3 separate regions of the Homo sapiens genome follow, and all the other regions are linked to region 3. The links come from fine-mapping of genetic effects on gene expression. A gene starts in region 3. Each other region holds a variant in brackets. All regions are shown on one strand. Distances are from middle to middle. Region 1 has its middle 8.3 kb from the start of TP53BP2. Region 2 overlaps CAPN8 (calpain 8). Region 3 holds the start of CAPN8 (calpain 8).

What was found. PIP is the estimated chance that this variant, and not a neighbour inherited with it, causes the effect.
Region 1: its variant is the best candidate, but not a certain one, in a credible set for the expression of CAPN8 in subcutaneous fat (GTEx, PIP 0.80).
Region 2: its variant is the best candidate, but not a certain one, in a credible set for the expression of CAPN8 in rectum (CEDAR, PIP 0.56).

Annotation. Positions count from the first base shown.
Region 1 is chr1:223,850,853-223,857,669 of GRCh38, forward strand. It overlaps the pseudogene PHB1P11. Among named protein-coding and RNA genes, the nearest start is that of TP53BP2, 8.3 kb to the left of the region's middle. The variant C/T (reference allele first, on the strand shown) is at 3,861.
Region 2 is chr1:223,548,242-223,555,058 of GRCh38, forward strand. CAPN8 (calpain 8) reads right to left here. Exons shown (of 21, transcript NM_001143962.2): 14 at 5,591-5,659; 15 at 2,719-2,776; 16 at 1,077-1,141. Among named protein-coding and RNA genes, the nearest start is that of CAPN8, 110 kb to the right of the region's middle. RefSeq lists enhancers at 2,515-2,564, 2,965-3,024. The variant T/G (reference allele first, on the strand shown) is at 4,186.
Region 3 is chr1:223,662,800-223,669,616 of GRCh38, forward strand. It overlaps CAPN8 (calpain 8), which reads right to left and starts at 2,902. Exons shown (of 21, transcript NM_001143962.2): 1 at 2,611-2,902. The coding sequence starts at 2,847.

The sequences.
Region 1 (6,817 bases), 190 kb after region 3:
ATGCATCACCATGCCTGGCTAATTTTTAAATGTTTTGTAGAGATGGTGTCTCACTGTGTTGCCCAGGCTGGTCTAGAACTCCTGGCCTAAAGCAATCCTCCTGCCTCAGCCTCCCAAAGTGTTCGGCTTACAGGCATGAGCCACTACATTGGCTAAATGTCACTCTTAAGGCCATGTTTGATGTTTCTTACACAGAATTAATCAATATTTCATGTATATTCCATAGTACCATGTTGTGGTATTTACAACATGACAGAAAAAAACCACATCTGTCTCCCTAACTAGCTGCAAGGCAAAAACGATTTCTTACTCATTTATTTGTATATCTTTAGCCCTAACATTGTGCCTAGGGAATAATAGATACTCAATGGTATAGTACCTAATAAATGCTTACCATGCTGTCTTTTCTCTTTACTAGGTACAGGAATAGCGAGATTTTTGTTCTGATTCTTGCAATAGCCTTGGGCAAGTCTTCCCACAACTTCTCTTGCCTGCTGCAATTCATTCTCTACCCTAGAGCTTAGCAAACTACAGCCCAAATTTGGCCTTCTGCCTGTTTTTGTATTGCCTATGAGCAAAAATCATTTTTACATTTTTAAATTGTGAGGGGGAAAATCAAAACAAGATGAAGAATATTTTGTGACATGCAAAAACTATATGAAATTCAAATTTCAGTGTCCATAAATAAGGTTTTATTGGAACACAGACACACTTATTTATTTATGTATTGTCTAGTGCGGCTTTCAAGCTACAACAAGAGTTAAATAGTTGCAACAGAGCCTGTACAGCCAGCAAAGCCTAAAATATTTACTACCTGGAAATGTGCTGACTTTTGCTCTACCCAGCAGCAAGAATGGTCTTTTTAACACAAGTGTAATTATATCACTCCTGTGGTTAAAACTTCTCATCTAAGTAGATGGGGTATGGATGGGCCAGGACTAAAGGCTGAAGGGTGTTAGGGTCAGGTGATGAATAATACCCGGGAGTGATGAGTTACATTTTTCTCTCTTCTTCTGTATGCTCTAAATTTTAGATAATAAAATGACTTAAAAAAGAAAAGCCTTCAGTTGCTTTTTATTGCTGTTAGGATAAAGAATACTTCAACATGGCCTCTAAGCCTTCACATGGTCTATTTCATACCCACCCTCCAAGGTAGTTGGAGTAGGAAGAAAACCCAGCACACATATATCTCCTCATAATCATGACAAAAGATTCAAAATTGGTAACTTTGTAGGATAAACTCAGTGTTTGAAGACATATATCTATGATATATGACTCTAGCTTGATTTGGCTAAAGTAATTCCCTGTTTTATTGGTAGCCCGTGGAAAAAGGAGCCCATGATTTATTTTCTTCTATTGTCAGTTCTCTCTCCATTACCTCACCCCCTCCTCACTCATTTAGTCTGCCTTTCAGCCTCATCCCTCCTCTGAAACAGCTCTTGCCAAAGTCACCAATGGCCTGTGTTTCACTGATCCAATAAACATCTTCAGTCTCATCTTCCTCAACCTTCTAGAACAACTTAGCTGTTGCTCATTCCTTTCAAAACACCCTTTTCACTTGACTTATATGACAAGGCTCTTACAGTTTTTCTCCTACCTCCCTGATTACTTCTTGGTATCCTTTGAAGGCTCATTTTTGTTCACCAGACTTTACAAGTTGAAGGTCCTGTAGTCTCAGTCCTAGCCATTTCCTCTTTTCACTGACTACCTTCACTTCTTCCTTAGAAAGTTGTCTTCACAGTCTTAAACCTCATCGACACACATCTCTCTCTTTTTTTTTTTTTTTTTAAGAGGTGGACTCTTGCTTTGTTCCCAGGCTGGAGTGCAGTGGTGCTATCATAGTTCACTGCAGCCCCAAACTCCTGGAATCAAGCAAGACTTCTACCTCAGCCTCCTGAGTAGCTGGAACTACAGGTGCACACCATCATGTATGACTAAATTTAATTTTTTTCAACTTTTTAATTGTTATGTATTTATTTATTTTTTTTAGGTGGAATTTTGCTCTTGTTGCCCAGGCTGGAGTACAATGGCAAGATCTCGGCTCACTGCAACCTCTGCCTCCTCGGTTCAAGCAATTCTCCTGCCTCAGCCTCCCAAGTAACTGGGATTACAGGCATGCGCCACTATGCCAGGCTAATTTTGTATTTTTAGTAGAGATGGGGTTTCTCCATGCTTGTCAGGCTGGTCTCAAACTCCCGACCTCAGGTGATCTGCCCTCCTCGGCCTCCCAAAGTGCTGGGATTACAGGCGTGAGCCACTGTGCCCAGACTATTTTCATATTTTTTTTTATAGCTGCAGGATCTCACTTTGTTGTCTAAGCTGGTCTCAAATTCCTGGCCTCAAGCAATTCTTCTGGATTGACCTCTCAAAGTGCTGAGATTACAGGCATAAGCCACCATGCCTGGCTAATTTTTTATATTTTCAACCTAGGCTGCTTCTCTAGGTTCTAGAACTGCATTGTCAAATGCAAAAATCACTAGCCACATATAGCTGTTGGGCACTTGAAATGTGGCTAGTGCAACTGAGAAACTAAATCTTTTATTTTAGCTTAAATGTAAATAGCCACATGTGAGTAATGGCTAAAATACTCAGCAGTGTAGATACAGAACACTTCCATCATCACAGAAAGCTCTATTGAATAGTGCTGGATTTCCATATCAACATGTCTCAACTCAGCATGTCTAAAACCAAGGGGTAGTTTTTATTCCCAATTCTGGTTCTCATCTAGTACTTCCTGTCTCAGTGTATGCCACAAGTGTTCTCCCATTTTCTCAAGCCACAGACCTGAGAATCATGTTTGACCTTATTTCTCCCTCATCTCTAAGATCTATTCAATCATCAAGGTCTATTCATTCCGTCTCCTAAATATCTCATCAAGCTCCCTTTCTTCCGTGACTACAGCCATGCTATTCAAGCTACCATCATTTCTCGTAAATCTGATCACAAGATAGCACTGCTTGATGTCCTTCCTTAACTCTGCCTCCAAGCCCTTGAATGCCTGTCTCTGCCCATCCTTCAGTGGTACTAGGTACCACAGTCCTCTCCTTCTGTGAGACTCAGCCACACCACCTTTTTCAGTTTCCCTTTTGCCCTTCATGCTTCCTCTAGCACATGCTGTAGCATAGCTCCAAGGACCTCACCTTCACACCATGTGTCACCACTGTATTCACTGTATTCATTACACTGGTTTGTGTTATTCAATTAATGTCAGTCTCTCCCACAATACTGTAACCCACAGGTAGGGACTCTACTCATCCTTGTTTAGCATGGATTCTTCAGTACTTAAAACAGTGCTCAGTCCATAATAGTAGAATGAATAAATAAATTAATTAAAGAGTGACTAAATCAATGAATTATTCATTTGTCTGTAGCTTACATGATTCAAGTCAGTGTTTCCCAGTTCTATGGCCATAGATTATATCTGTCACCCCAAATAGCCATCTCATAAATGCCTACAAAAAGTTCTGATTGAATGAGAGTGAAAGGATCTATGGAATGTAAATCTCTTGCTGAAATACAGACCTAAAGTGCTCCCCTTCTGATGATTGGCCAATGGTGGTGTCTTTCATAAACAACTATATTTATGAGGCCGGGCGGTGGCTCGCACCTGTAATACCAGTACTTTGGGAGGCTGAGGCAGATGGATTACTTGAGGTTAGGAGTTCGAGACCAGCCTGGCCAACATGGTGAAACCCCGTATCTACTAAAAATACACTGGCCGGGCGCGGTGGCTCACTCCTGTAATCCCAGCACTTTGGGAGACCAAGGCGGGTGGATCACCTGAGATCAAGAGTTCAAGACAAGCGTGGCCAACGTGGCAAAACCTTGTCTCTACTAAAAATACAAAAATTAGCCGGGTG[C/T]GGTAGTGGCCGCCTATAATCCTAGCTACTCAGGAGGCTGAGGAAGGAGAATTGCTTGAACCCGGGAGGCAGAGGTTGCAGTGAGTGGAGATCGCACCATTGCACTCCAGTCTGGGCAACAGAGTGAGACTCTGTCTTAAAATAAATAAATAAAATACAAATACAAATACAAAAATTAGCTGGGCATGGTGGTGAGCACCTGTTAACTCAGCTACTTGGGTGGCTGAGACAGGAAAATCGCTTAAACCCAGAAGGTGGAGACTGCAGTGAGCCGAGATGGTGCCACTATACTCCAGCCTGGGCAACAGAGTGAGACTCTGTCTCAGAAAAAAAAAAAAAAAACTATATTTATAACTACCGTGTTACCATGAGCATTTGAAAAAAAAAAAAAAGAAAATCTATGTGATGAGACTTTAGAAAGAAAAATTAAGGCTTCTCTATTGACAAGCAAGAGAATTTTAGCCTGAAATACTGAAAACAGGCTTCCAAGTGCCAAGAACTCACAAAGGCCCATTGGCCACCAACGAAGTATGTCGCAGCTTCCATTCTCCCCCTTGCAAAGGGGCTTTATTCTACTGTAAGGAATGTACATGTATTTCTTCTTGGTCACCTCTTAAACACACAGTGTTAGATGAGAATGAACTGAATGAACTGCATCCTAACCATTTTTAAATCATTTTTAAACTTGGGATTTATTCAAGTATTTTTCAAGAATACCTATGAAAAGCACACTGATTTTACAGCTACGTGGCCTAAGTTCCTTTGAGGAAAGGACCAGTTCTTAAAGTTCTGGGCATTCCCTTTAGCCTAGCACACAATGTTTGACTCTCAATTACTAAATGAATGTAATTGTGTTGCTGCCACAAAAGTTTTTCTCTGAATAGCTAAAGATAAATAATTAGAAAAGGAAAAACTAGGCCGGGCATGGTGGCTCACGCCTGTAATCCAAGCACTTTGGGAGGCTGAGGTGGGCAGATTGCCTGAGGTCAGGAGTTCAAGACCAGTCTGGCCAACATGGTGAAACCCCGTCTCTACTAAAAAAAAAAAAAAAAAAAAAAAATTAGCCAGGCATGGTGGTGTGCGCCTGTAATCCCAACTATTCGGGAGGCTGAGGCAGGGTAATTGCTTGAATCAGGGAGGTGGAGGTGGCAGTGAGCCGAGATCACGCCACTGTATCCAGCCTGGGCGACAGAGTGAGACTCAACTCAAAAAAAAAAAAAAGGAGAGACAAGGAGAAACTAACTCGATGATTTTATATCATCATTTAAATCCCACTTATGAGGAATTCATAACTCACTTCTAATAACTGTTATGTATGACATTCAAGTTTCTTATTGACAGTTGAGAATATTTCACCCCACCTCTTATTGTCGCCCAATGTACATTAATTGAGACAGAGTAACTTTTTTTGTATTTTGTCAGGCAGCCCCTGAACCCCAGAACAGGTTCAGAGAGACTCCCAAGAGTAAAATTTGTAAAAGTCTTGGCCAAACTCAATTTTTATTGCTCTAGTTAAGGCCCAGAGGGAGCTTTTAAAAGGTCAGCAGAGAAGGTAAATTTAGGAGACTACAAAACTGAAAAAGGAGAGTAGTATCTGCTTAGAGAGAATTTTCACTTCGAACTGATGAGTCCTCAAACTGTAACCACTGAAGATTTTTTTCTCCTAAAGTAATTGTTTTCTGAAATCTATTTTCTTTCTTTTTTTATTTTTTGAGATCTGAAGTGGTTTTACCTTTATTTCCTTCACTTTAAGTCAATCATGAAATTTCACAGTGATTTCTGGAGTGGGAGCAGAAGGGAGGCGGCGTTAAGAATCACCGGGGCTGTGGCCCGGTCAGCCCGCGGAAGTGGAGGCCGTGTGGGCCCTCACTGGGGCAGCTGGAGGAGCACGGACTGCCCCGCCAGCAGATAGGTGATGTTCCAAGAGCGTGAGAGCAGGTACGCGATGTCTTCCACAGCTTCCTGCTCGATTAGACCGTCCCCCGCGGTGACCAGTGAGTTGACAATCAGCTCAGCTGCCTTGGAGTCGCCCTCAGCAGAGATGATGGCCACCTTTTTCTGCTGCTCAGCCTTTTCCACCACAAATCTCGCCCTCTCTACTTCCTGCTGAGCCACCTGTTTGGCTTCCATCGCTTCTGTGAACTCCTTCCCGAAGGTCAGATGTGTCAAGGACACGTCGTCCAGGATGAGCCCAAAGGTGGCTGCTCGCTCCGTAAGGTCATTGCTTACCTACCTGGAGACCAGCTCTCTCTGGGTGATTAGCTCTCCAGCATCAAAGCGAGTCATCGCTGACTTGAGGATGCCGGTCGTGATGGACAGCAGCACACGCTCATCATAGTCCTCTCCGATGCTGGTGAAGATGCGAGAAACTGGCTAGCAACGGCCCAGAAGAGGATGCGCAGTGTGATGTTGACATTCTGTAAGTCTTTGCTGCCGGCGATGACTGGCACTTTACGTGGTCGAGAACGGCAGTCAAAGATAATTGGTTTCTGTACCCAGGGGATGAGACAGTGAGTCCCTTCCCCTACCACAATGTCCTGTACTCCATGGAATCGGTCAAAGATGACAGCTCTGTGCCCAGCATCCACATTATATAAAGCAGAGTTCACCACGCCTCCTGCAACAGCTAAGGCCAGGCCAAACTTGCCGATGGACGCAAACACTTTGGCAGCCATGTTTTCTTCTGCTTGACCCTCTCACATCTGCTTCTACTCTGACCTCCACATGAATTCCCCAACCACACATACCCTGAAATCTATTTTCAAACATACATCACATTTACTACATCTAATAGAATAAATATGAACTTGAAAAAAGTAATCAAAGTATGCTTATACAAAAGAACCGACTATGGCAAATTCTCCCTGTCCATTTAAATACACATTTAGCCCAGCATGGTAGCATGCGCCTATAGTCCCAGCTACAAAAATAAATAAATAAACATGCTTTTCTTTACC
Region 2 (6,817 bases), 110 kb before region 3:
CACCTTCACCATCAGCACTGTGATAAATGGCAACCTGGACCCACTGTGGGCAAAGCTCTAAGGAAGTGATGTTACACCACTCACCCTCTGTGCCTTCACACCTAGAAGGTTCCTTCCACCTAGAATGCCCTGACCTTCTCCATTCCTCCCAAAAACTACTGCCCATTTGCTATAGACTGAGTGTTTTTGTCCTCCAAAATTTGTATGCTGAAACCCAATCCTCATGTGAGGATATTAGGAGATGGGCCTTTGGGAGGTAATTAGGTCATGAGGGTGGAACCCTCAGAAATGAAATTAGTGCCCTTATAAAAGGAACCCCAGGAAACTCCCTCACCCCATCTACCATGTGAAGTTATAGCAAGAAGATGCCATCTATGAACTAGGAAACTGGCCCTTATCCACCACAAAATCTACCAGCACCTTGATCTTGGCCTTCTCAGCCTCCAGAAGAGTAAGAAATAAATTTCTGTTGTTTATAAGCCACCCAGTTTATGGTCTCCTGTTACAGCAGCCAGAACAGCCTAACACACCATACTTCAATATCAAGTGAGGGTTAAACTAGATCAGGGAGAACAAATAGATTTTATCTTGTGTGATAACTCTAAACTATCAGTAGTAGCTGTCCACAAGCCATGTTAAGATTCTGAAGCAAAGATCAGATAGTGATGGGGAGAGCTTGGGAAGCAGGGAACGGTAGAGGGTGGGGGTGGGGACGGGTAGAATTGAAGGGGAGGAGGAAGATGAAGAGATGAACAGAGTGTGGAGGGAGCAGGTGCGCAAATGCCCCATGCTTGCTACCTCCAGATTACATGATTTTAAATAAGTCACCTAAACACTGCACACCTCGGTTTCTTCACCTGTGAAACGGAGATAATCTCAAGCTTTCTGAGACACATCCATGATATGATACATTTTCCTTTGAGGCTTCAAGTACAATCCTTGACATATGCTCCATGCCTGCTCTCTCCCCTTCTCATTTTTTACCCGTCCCTTCCTTCTAACTGGAAAAGGTGGAGGAGTCTTTAAAAACCGGACGAAAGTAAAAAAAAAAAAATAATGCAACATTTAAAGGATACATCCAACAGACTGATCATTTCCCTGCAAGTGTTGATGTTGAATCCATCGAATTTTATGTCTGTTCCTAAAGATTTAAATAGAAAAGGGGAGTGGGAATCGGATCATTTGAAGGTGAGGGAAAGAACCTCCACGGTAGAAGACCTCCAAAGATACCATCCAAGGGTGTGGAACCGAACTTGGTCTCTGCCAAAAGGGGAGAGCATCATGGCAGGCTTGTGGGCAGATACGCCTGAGCCTCCTGGTGCCGTGGGAGATAGAACAGACAAGCACCAGCATCCAAGTACAGCATCTGAACCTTGGCTTGGCTCCCCACAAGCCACAGACTTCAGCAAATTAATATCTTTGAGCTTTAATTTCCTCCTCCATCAAATGGGAATAATCATGATAGTAACAATGACCATACTTGCCCCAAAGACTGGCTGGGTATTAACTGAGATAATGAAAGTGAAGTTTTAGCCCAGGCTTGATATATGATAAGTTCTTAATAAAACAGCTAACTTTATATGGCTAGGTATTGTTATAAGCACTGCACATCTACTCTTCAAAATCACTCCGTGTGGTAGATGCTATCATTATACCCACTTTATAGATCAGGAATCTGAGTCCCAGAGAGGTTATATGATTTGCTCAAGGTCACAACCAGTAGGGGGCAAAGCTAGGAGTTAAATGCAGGCCAGCCAGCTCCACAGCCTGAGCTTGTAATCACAACACACAGCCACTCAATGACAGCAGCTATCCTTCCTTACTAAATTGCAGGCATGTCACTGGAGCTCCATCCCTGGCCTCCACCCTCACCTTCCATATACCTGGGAGCCAAGACAGGTGCCAAAGACCCTGCAACCCCTTCTCTTTCTCTCCACTCTTCAACAACTGCAGGAGCAAGAGTGGTGTGGAGAGGAGACGGGCCTGTGCTCCGAGCCCTGGGGATCCATCTGCTCAGCCCTGGGTTCGTCCCTGGGAAGGGTATGACTTGGCTCCTGGGCCAAGCCCCTGCTTCCTGCATTCTCAAGCCCTGTCCTGCTGCAGTGAGTGAATGAGAGCCCATCACTCACTGGAAGACTTAACCTGGCCCATCCCTGGACCCGGAAAGAAACCAGCTCCCTGTGTCCTCCTGTGGGCTGGGGCTCAGAGGGGAGATGCAAATCTTTCCTCCTGACAGCTCTGAGGCTTGCAAAAATCTGAAGATGGGGAACTGAGGACAGTCTAGGAGAGTCAGAATCATCCCTTCCTTCCTCCTTCCCTCAAGATGAGCTACAGAACTAGATCTTTCATCTGCAGAGGTTTCCACAGTATCCAAGTTATTAATTTTGTGAAAAAAATTCACTTAAGTCAATCCCAGCCCAGCTCTTTTTCTCCTGGGACTCAGCCTGCAATTTCACTTGACACTATGGAGCTTTGTTCCTTCAGGTGCTGGCTGCTTGCCAGCACCAGCCCCGCCTTCACCTCCACCCTCGCCTCCCCGTCTTCTGCCTCTCCTTCTTCCCCTCTTGTCTTGCTGGACTGAATCAGGGCTCCTGGGGTCAGACACCAATGCCCTTTCTCCCACCTGTGGTGCTGCCAGCCCAATGCCTGCCTACCCATCCCTCACCCTGCCCCAGCATCTCCTACGGACTTTCTGAAAGACCCCAAGAAGGAACTTACTCTTGGAAAACGCCTCATTCAAAAGTATCTTGAGTGCATTGGCAGTAATCTCAGAATCCTAGAAAGAGGAACCCAAATGCAAATCATGTCAGGCCCTGACAAGTTGTTTCAAGACAGTAAATTAATGCAGTGCTTCCTCACAGTCAGACACCAGGCCCACTGGCCCTGTGAGGTTTATTTGTTTTTGTTTTTTGTTTTTTTTTGAGACAGTCTTACTCTGTCACTCAAGCTGGAGTGTAGTGCCGCAATCTCTGCTCACTGCAACCTCCATTTCCCAGGCTCAAGCAATTCTCCTGCCTCAGCCTCCTAAGTAGCTGGGACTACAGATGCGTGCCACCACGCCTGGCTAATTTTTGTATTTTTAGTAGAGACGGGGTTTCACCATGTTGGCCAGGATGATCTTGAACTCCTGACATCGTGATCTGCCCACCTCAGCCTCCCAGAGTGCTAGGATTACAGGCATGAGCCACCGTGCCCGGCTGGCCCTGTGATTTTAAAAGCAGGTGGCATCTTTAAAAACTCAAATTATCCTCTTCTTTTGGGGATCCCAGCAGCCTGGCCAGAGGTGTGTTAGTGCCATGAGTGTGGTACACACCGTGGCAGAAGGCTGCCATGCCAGGGTCCTGCTGCCTTTCACAGGGCTCGCTTGAACAGGGATAAAGTAACAGGAACAGCAGTGATAGGATTGAACCAGATGTGCCAGAGCCAGTGTGGAAGATCCTTAAATCCTCAGCACAATTCCACAGCCATTTTCAAGTTAAGGAAGTCGTGATTTTGTAAACTGCTGAACACTGTATACATGCAACATCATTTGTCATTTTCATGTGACGTAATTGCTTGTGGTTTGTAGCTACCAAGAGGCAGAGCTAGACTTGGAAACCTAAGGTTGGTTCACCCCAAAGTGCCGGCTTTCCCCACCACACCTACAGGAGTTGGTATTTCACATAGGAGCCCATCTCAAACTGGGGGCAGAGATTGAGAGAATAGCATATTCTGTGTGCATCTGGGATAAACACTGAGCCAGAGGGAAGAGTCATCCCTTAACTCTCAGATGGAGAGCAGATCTCAGGCAGGATGACCAAGGAAATGCAGAGAAGGCGTGCTGGGCTGATGTCTGGGTCCCAGTCTCAACTCAGCCCCTTATTCATCATGTGACTTTAGCCGAGTCACTTTCCATCTTCCCATCCTCCGCTAGCCAGGCCCTGGCAATTCTACTGGAAATGAGAGAGGCAAGAGCTGCACAAAGCAGTGTCTCCTCTGAGGACAACTGGCCTCACCCCAGCACAGAGTGGTCAGTCCCAATAATAAGACCTGAGGACCTGGGCCAGGCACGGTGGCTCACACCTGTAATCCCAGCACTTTGGGAGGCCGAGGTGGGTGGATCACCTAAGGTCAGGAGTTCGAGACCAGCCTGGCCAATATGGCGAAACCCTGTCTCTACTAAAAATGCAAAAATTATCCAGGCGT[T/G]GTGGCTGGCATCTGCAGTCCCAGCTACTCGGGAGGCTGAGGCACGAGAATCGCTTGAACCCGGGAAGCAGAGGTTGCAGTGAGCCGTGCACCACTGCACTCCAGCCTGGGTCACAGAGCAACAGTCCATCTCAAAAAAAAAAAAAAAAAAAAAAGACTTGAGGCCCCTTTAAAAAGCCTCTGGGGCTAGAAGACTACCCCCATTAGCCTGCCAGGAAAGAAATGGGATGTCAAGAGTCTACATTTGGACCTTGACCCCGTCGTTCATGAGGCCTTGTACCCTCAGCCAGCTCCTTAACCTCTCTGTGCAGGCCACTTTACAAGCCGAGCAAGGAGAGTGACCAATACTGCCCCATGCAGCCAGAGAGAAAGGTAAGATAAAGTGCATGAAGAACTATGCAAATATGAGCTTTTCCTTTCATCATTCTTGGTGTTCTTAATAAAATATGGCCCTTGGCAGCTAAGGAAACAGGTTTTGTTAGCAAAAATACTGGCCTGTAAATCCATCTAAAACATAAATTGGCTCATCTTTGCAAGGGTTTTATTCAATGGCTATGCAAAGGAACTGTTCCCAGGTTTTATTTCCTGCAAGGGATTCTGATATCTTTTCTTCTATTTTATCCTTAAGTCTAGAAAGTCACCCTGAGTTTCCCGGGGTGGTGGGGGGAGACCATTGTTTTTTCCTCTTCCGGGCCCTTTTCACACACTTTATTATCCTCCAAAGAGTAACACATTCGCTGTATTTATGGGGCCGGTTTTGACATTTCAAGTCCTGGTTATGCTTTGACTTGTGGCCCCCACCGGGCTGCTACCAAAGTGAACGGAAGCCAGGGCAGGGGAGAAGGATCAGGGGTCGCTTCTTTCTCTGCTCCAAGTGCCCAAGTTGCATTCATGTCGGGCAAAGCTTGGATTCCTCAGGCTGCTGGTCTCCCAGAGGGCGGGCAGGGCTGCAGGACGGTGACAGGGAACAGGGCTAGTCCTGCACACTAATCCCAAGCCAGGTTAGCTGAGCTGCCTTCCACTGCGGCTGGGCAATCCTCACTCTGAAGGATATCTATTTGGAGAGGTTTTGCCATCCCAGCTTTTTATTCAGAGACCCCAATCTGACAGGGCCAATCTGCAAACAGAAAGGCTTTTGGCAGGACCTGGAGATCTGGCTTTTCTATTTTCTCAAGAGTCAGTCAACGCAGCAAGATAAGTAGCCTCAGGACCAATTCCCAAGTGATGAAGGAAAGGTACTCAATCTTAAGACAGGATGGTGATGGGCACAGAAGCTGGGGGCCCCTGAGACCTGAGTCTCACCCTTTTTATGCCTAGAGACCTCAGGGAGTAAAGAATGAAGTGACCTGAGCATTCCTGAATATTCTCCTGCCCACCTGGGAAGCCATGTTCGCCCTCCACTCACCTTCCCTGCCAACTTCTCAAACAGCCTCCTGAACTGGTCATCTTCCTGATCCACCTCACTGGGATGTGGCTAAAAAGAAGGACATTTGCAAAGTTAAAATGGGAATCGTCAAGGAGAATGAAAGACGAAGATTTAAAATTCATTCCTTCATCCATTAGTATCTATGATGCACCTACTATGTGCCAGGCTTTGGGCTAAGTGGGGGCACATGGTGGCAAACCAAGAGACAGCAAAGGTCCTGGCCCCAGGGAGCTTACAGTCCAGCAGGGATGAGCAGAGAGGCAGCGCTGGGGCCTAGCAGTTTTCTCTCTAAGTGATTTGGGGAAGTGAGCCCCACCAACCCTGAATTTCTGATTACAACCTGAACAACTTTCAGAAAATGACACTGACACCAGAAAATCTTGGTGTGAATCTGTGGACTCCTAAGGGAATCACTGATAATTTTCCAGGGAGTCTGAACTCCAGAAATTGCGTGAAAACATGGGGTCATATCTAAATGCATTTTTGGCTGGGTGCAGTGGCTCACACCTGAAATCCTAATACTCTGGGAGGCTGAGGCGGGCAGGTCACGTAAGCCCAGGAGTTCGATAGTAGCCTGGGCAACACGGTGAAACCCCATTTCTACAAAAAATACAAAAATTAGCTGGGTGTAGTGGTGCACGCCTGTAGTCCCATCTACTTCAGAGGCTGAGGCCACAGTGAGCCAAGACTGTGCCACTGTATTCCAGCCTGGGTGATAAAGCGAGACCTTATATCAGAAAAAAAAAACATTTTCTTAGCTTTCATCAGATTCACGAAGAGCAACATGATTTCAAAAGTGTTGAGAACATGGCCTAGTAGAAAGAGTAGAACTAGAAGCCAGGAGACTGGAGTTCAAATAGCAGATTGTACCCTTACTGGACACTATCTCAGGGCTCTGAACATCCATGGCCTCCACTCTGTTATTGATTTAACCAGACCATTTTCATGGGGCCATTTTAGGAATCAAATGAGAGCTAATGTGGGTCAAAGTCCTTTGGAAATTACAAACCATTATATGAATGCTTCTGTCCAGAGACTTTCTGATGTGACAATGGGCTCTGCCCAAAATAGGACAATGCCCAGTTGTCACCACAAGACAGAATGGAAAAGTGACAGCTTCCCAGATGACACGAAATTTCTAGAAAGCCGGGTTAATTTCTTTCAAAACTATCACTAAGATGAGTACAAAAGGCCCAATATAGCTTG
Region 3 (6,817 bases):
TGAAGCATTTAGGATCAGGCTAATTTTCTCAGCATTCAATGCATGTTCCTCATAGAGATAGGATCAGAATCTTTACTGATTCAGGAGTCTATTCAATAACTGTAAGATCTTAGAGGATAAGTCTGCCTTCTCTAATGTACCCTTGTGGTATGTGAGCATGAGCCTGCCCAAAAGCAGCTGTGTGATAATTTTTCACTGATGATTAGGGAAGGAGAGGTTAAATTTTGACACGCATTTATTTACTCAACACGCACTTGAAAACTCCAAATAGGAGTCCTTCAATTGCACCTTCCGCATTACTCAGGTTCTACTGCCTCATGCTCTGAATTTTACTTCCTCCTTTGACAGCCACAAATCAGCACATCCAGTCTACAATTACCGCATTTCCACAGACCACGAGGACAGGTGAAGACATAGTTTGGGGAAGAACAGGCTATGTGGTTAAGGAGGTAAAGTCTCTAAGGATTTCAAAGAAAGGAGAAAAACTAAGCAAAGGTTAACTGATACCTGACTTTGGTCTCTAAAGGAAAATTTTCTCCCCCTCCTTCCTCTCCCCCAAGACCCTTGGGATCTGCAATGGTACCCCTCCCTAAGGCTTTTCACCACCCAGTTGTGACAACCCAGGTTCCCATGGCCCATCATTTATGCCTCTGTAGAGTTCTTACTTCATTCTGCCTTGGGCATCTGTCCTTTATTCACACCTGTGTCTCCCCACACTTTCCATCAGAGCTGAGACCACAGCTCCTTCCTCAGCTTCTCCCTGACCACCTTTCCAATCAGTGCAGAGCCCATGCCTGGCACAAAATGGAAGCTCAAAAAAACTGTCTGTTGAAATGAAATGTGGCTGTCTTGAAATTAGAATAAAAACCATTACTCCCAATCTGGATTTTATCAACATACCAGGGTAACCCTATAGGTTTCAGAGGGGAATGGGAAGATGAACCACGGTGGGCGGGAGGGCAGCATGGCCAAGGAGTTATTCTCAGAGATGAAAACTGTTAGGCAAAATCAGCAGGATCAAAGTAAAAAGGGTAGAGGTAGCTAGCTGGAGTTAAATAGTGATTTTGACCATTTTAGAAGAAGTACTCTCCCTTTGTCTTCCTGTTTCAACCACTGCCAAGAAAATAGGAACCCTGACTTAATTTCCCTATCATGGTTTAGAAGACAAAAGGTGCCCAGGTCATTTCATAGCCCCTCTCCTGAGACGTTGTTATGAGCTCTGTTGAACAGAGCACTTTGTATGGATGAGCTCAATTCTCACAACCACTCTGTATGGGAGAGGTTCTCATCCCTGAGGAATCACTTGACAAGGGTCACATAGTGATAGGTCATGGGTCTAGGTTTTGGGAGGACTGTTCTCCATCCCTTGCCCTTGAGCTTTGGGTAGTATCAGTAACCGCATCCAGGAGCCTCTGCCTTCCGTCTGCATCCACAGAGCCCCAGCTCCCACCTCTCCACTCACCAGCCCTGATGGAATAATGTCAATTCATGACCTTGCGCAACCGTGCACCTTTCAGCAATGATGTTGTCACAATTTACCTGCCAGCTGATTGCATCCAGCACTGAGTTGTTCCATTGTGCACTGGCCCAGGGACCATATGCAGTAATAACAACTACGTATTCTGCATCTATTATGTTCTGGGCACTATGCTCTGAGATTTATCTCTAATTCTCATACCAACCCTGAAAAATAAGGTGCCAGTAAATGCCATTTTACAGATGAGAAAACTAAGGTTCACAGAGTTTACCGGCCCAAAACAACACAGGCAGAGCTAGGATTCAAATCTATCTTACCTAGTTCCAAAGCTCATCCATGCTCTTCTCTCTATACCTCACCATCTCTGAACAAGAGTTCAGGCTGGGTGTAGTGGCTCACATCTGTAATCCTAACACTTTGGGAGGCTGAGGTGGGCAGATGGCTTAAGCCCAGGAGTCCAAGACCACCCTGGGCAACACAGCACAACCCTGTCTCTACAAAAATATGTAAACATTAGCTGGGTGTGGTGGCACGTGCCTATAATCCCAGCTACTTGGGAGGTTAAGGTAGGAAAATCACCTGAGCCCAGGAAGGTTGAGGTTGCAGTGCACTGTGATCGCACCACTGCACTCCAGTCTGGGTGACAGAGTGAGACTCTGCCTCAAAAAAAATAAGAGTTCAAAAGGTGATGGGGGGGCCAGATGCAGTGGCTCATGCCTGCTATCCCAGCACTTTGGAAGGCTGAGGCAGATGGATCACCTGAGGTTGGGAGTTTGAGACCAGCCTGACCAACATGGAGAAACCCCATCTCTACTAAAAATACAAAATTAGCCAGACATGGTGGCACATGCCTGTAATCCCAGCTACTCGGGAGGCTGAGGCAGGAGAATCACTCAAACCCAGGAGGTAGAGGTTGCAGTGAGCTGAGATCATGCCATTGCACTCCAGCCTGGGTGACAGAGCAAGACTCCATCTCAAAAAAATAAAATTAAAAAAGGTGGTGGTGGAGGGATCTGAAATATGAGATCCAGACACTTAGGGTCCACAGCCTCAACTTCTCCCTCAGTTCCTCCTGATCAGATGTAAGGCCCCTCCACCTTGTATGTCACTCAACAGCAAGCCCGCTTCCTTACCGTGGGCCGCTTCCAGATGATGCCTTGAGTTTGCGGAGAGCCTGGTCCAAGATCCTTGTAGCCCAAAGCTGATGGACATGCTGGGAACTCAGGGTCCTTAAATAGGACCCCTGAGTCCAAGCACTGTTGCCTCAGGGTCTTGAAATCCTGGCCCAAGTACTTCAAAGCGTTTTGGTTGGAGCCAAGACCTTGAGTGGCTGCCCGCTGCCTAGATACACCAGCTGCCTGGGCTGCCATGGCCGTGGGCTCTGTAGGGTGGACAGAAGGGCAGGGCTGCACTGTACTCTCAGACACCTGCTCCACTGGGAGGGGAGCTATAAGGCACTAAAGGAGGTGGAGCAGACAAACATTTCACCTGAGGCCCTGTTCCAGAAGGAAGTGAGTCATGGCCAGGGACAAATATGTACCCAAGGTCCAGGCCAATCTGCCCCACCTTCTTCTTCTGCCTTTTGCAAATAATTTGGGGTCTGGGAACTTTCCAGGGCCCATCCCAGGCCATTAGCCTAAGAAATCCATTAGGATCTTGACCCCACCCCGGCATTCCCTCCACACACCTCTTTGCAAGACCTGCTTACCTTGCTTCAAGCCCATTGACTGAGATGAGAAGGCTTATTGAGCAGCTTGAAGCAAATATTCATCAAGGAATTGGAGGCATGGCTCTGAGCAGGAAGAAGGCAAGTAGTTACAGGGGCCTCCTTTCCTGCCAGAAATGTTTTGGTGCATATTTCCTAGGAAGGCAAAAAATACCAGAGAGTAGTGATTCACAGGCCAGATTTGGAATAAGCCTGACTGGAGGAGGTTCCACCTGTGAGTGAACGCTTTGGCCTCTGACTGCCTCGGTTTCTATCCCAGCTCCCCCGGTAATTTGCTCTGTCATGTTGGGCAAGTTGTTTAACCTCTTTTCTCCTAAGTTTTTTTATCTATAAACTGGAAGAGCATAGGAGAGCCTACCACAAAGGGTTGTTCGGAAGAGTGATGAGATAGTACATGTCATCTGCTTAGAACAGTATGAAGTAACATTCAGTGAATGTCAGGTATCACTATTCCTTGAAGCCAGGATTCCCAGAAAGGCCTTGGAATCAGGAGCCTTGATTCCAATCTCAGAAGTGAGTTACAAGCTGTATGACCTTGGATTAGTCACTTCTCTCTGGGCTCCAGTTTCCTACATCTGGTCTACCCGAAGGATGTCAACCACACCAATGCTTTTTGAACTTCAGTGTTTGTGGCACACTAGAAAATGGTCCCCCAAGGATACCAGGTCCTCATCTTGAGAACCTGTAAATAGTCCCTTATCTGGGAAAAGGGTTTTTGCTGCTATGACTAAGTTAAGGATCTCGAGATGGGAAGATTATCCTGACCCTAAATACACAAGTGTCCTAAGAGGAAGGCAGAAGAAGATTTGACAATAGACAAAAAGGAGAGGTGATGAAATGAGGCAGGCAGAGGTTAGCGAGATCCTGCCCCACTCCAGGGAACACCAGCAGCCACAGGAGCTGGAAGGGGCAAGAATGGATTCTCCCCTAGAGCCGCTGGAGGGATGTGGGCCTTCCAACACCTCGATTTCACAGCCTTGGGACTTCTGGCCTCCAGAACGGTGACAGAATACATGTATGTTGTTCTAAGCCACCATATTTGTGGTCATTTGTTACAGAAGACGCAGGAAACAAATATAGTGTGCAGAAGAATCCCCTGGAGCACTCGCTCAAAATGCTGATTCCCTAATAGGTGCTACCACAAATCCTCCACCCCCATCCCTCCCAAAAAAGAGTTCTAATTCAGGAGGTCTGAAGTAAGACCCAGGAATCTGCAGTTTTTAAACCAGTACCACAGAGATGATGCTAATACAAGGATCCAGGGATGCCCTCTGAGAAGCTCTGGACCAGCCGACCTCTGAGGCCTCCAACTCTGACCTTCTAAGCCAATGACAGTCCACGTGTTAAGCACTTAGCTAGGTGGGTAGGTCTGAGCAAGTAGAAAGAAGGGTTGCTCCCAGGTGTTCAGAAAAACATGTGGTTTCCCAGGTTTCATCAGAAACTCAAGGCCAGGCCAGGCATGGTGGCTCAGATCTGTAATCTCAGCACTTTGGGAGGCTGAGGCAGGAGGATTGCATGAGCCCAGGAGTTCAAGACCAGCCTGGGCAACATAACAAGACCCAGTCTCTAAAAAAAAAAAAAGAAAAATTAGCTGGGCATGGTGGTGCATGCCTGTAGTCCCAGCTACTCAAGAGGCTGAGGTAGGAGGATCACTTGAGCCCAGGAGGTCAGGTCAAGGCTGCAGTGAGTCACCCACTCCAGCCTGGGTGACAGAGTGATGAAACCCTGCCTGAAAAAAAAAAAAAGAAAGAAAGAAAGAAAAAGAAATTCAAGGCCAAAATGGCCTTCAGAGGCTAAAGCTAGCCTCAGAAAGACTATGGTCCATGCCCCCTTGGGGACCCCGTCTTCCTTCCCTCAACATCACTTTCCCTTTGATTCCACATCTGCCCACTATTAAGCTCATCTAGTGTTCACAGTTACATTTTCACCGGCCCACACAGTTGACACGGTCTCACTTGGGTGGCCCCAACCACCCCTAAAACCAGAACCACAACTCCATTCAGTCAAAACAGAATGGTCATTGCAAATCTTGGCTGTGTCACTGCCAAGCTTAAAACCTCCAATGGCTGCCCACTGTTCCTGGGAGAAGAGTAAGGGGGATTTTGCACAGCCCATTAGACCTTGAGCAGCTGGCCCTGCCTACCTTTCCTCCTGCTCCATTCTCCCCTCCTGGCTTTCTTTCCATTCCTGGAATGTTGTGTTCTGTCCTGCTTCAGGGCTTGACACCTTCTGTGCCCTCCACCTGAAATGTTCTTCTCCCCACCCCAGCCCTGTTCATCCAGTAGACCTGGGTGCCCCAGAAAAGGTTTTCTGGACAACTCCACACCTCATACTAAGCCATTTTCCCCTCTTATACGCTCTCATAGCAACCTGCAAGACCCTGTCCCGCACCGATTCCTGTAATCATTTAATTAATGCCTCTCCACCCCATAAGGCTCTGATCTCCACGAGGACAATTACCCCTGTTTGTTTTACTCATTGTTGTATTCCTGAACCCTAGAAAGCTCCTGGAACATAGTAGGGACTCAATAAATATTTGTTGCATGAATATACACCTACAGGTATGAGATGTGCTGTGGATAAACGTGCACCAGGTATAATGGACCTGACACCTTCCGGCAGGGTCATTAGTTCATTAGCAAGGATCCTATGGGATTGTTTTTCTTGCCTCTTTCTCCCCTACACCTCCCAGAAACATTCCCCTTAGACTGACTAAAATGAACAAGCCCTTCCTCCATCCAATCACAGAATAAGCACAGCTGGTAATTTTCCTTCTGCACAAGGGAACTCCTTCGAGGTTAGCAATCTCCTTCCTACCCCACCTGCCTGAATTACCTCGCTCCCACATCCAGATGCTGTGCAAACAAACCCTTCCTCATCGAGGCTGGCAGGTCTGAGCCACTGAAAATAGAGCCTTCCTTGTATCCAGGCACAAAAAGAACAAGTGGAGTTGAGAAGTCTCTGCTCCCCAGCGCCTCATGAGCAGACAGCAAACATCTATGTGTTCTCCAGCCAGGTACCCAGGAGGAAGCAGCCTGCATCCACTGTCTCTGTCCACCTGGACAGATGTCTCTCCAGCCTCACACCCCAGGCACCACAGGAACCAGTGCCAGCTCCTTGCCAGGCAGCCTGAGGATCCACTAAGAGGTTGATGAGGGTGTGCAGACACAACTGACACACGCCTGGCAGCACCTCCTTAATAAGAACACTTCTCGGCAAAGAGCCCAGGTGAATGCTGCCTCTTCTCTGTGCACACCAGCCAAGTGGGGATGCTGAGCTGTATCTATACATGGCTCCTCTCAGTCAAAAGGATCAAGGCTGTATTATCCCCTTAGAAAGGAAGATAAATCACTCTGGTTGCACCCAGCGGTCCAAGTGTTCTTTTCAGATGATTAAAGTTTGCAAAGCTTGTTGTCTTGCATAACTATAACTTCAGGGAAAAGATGGGTGCAAGCTAACTGCAGAATTCTCTCTCCTGGGCCTGACAGTTTCAGAATGCTAAGGCAAGCAGGGGTTGAATCCAGTGTCAAGAGGATTACAGAGTTCTCATACATTGCTGGTGGGAATGTAAAATGGTGCCGCTGTTTTGGAAAGCAGTCCAGCAGTTTCTCAAA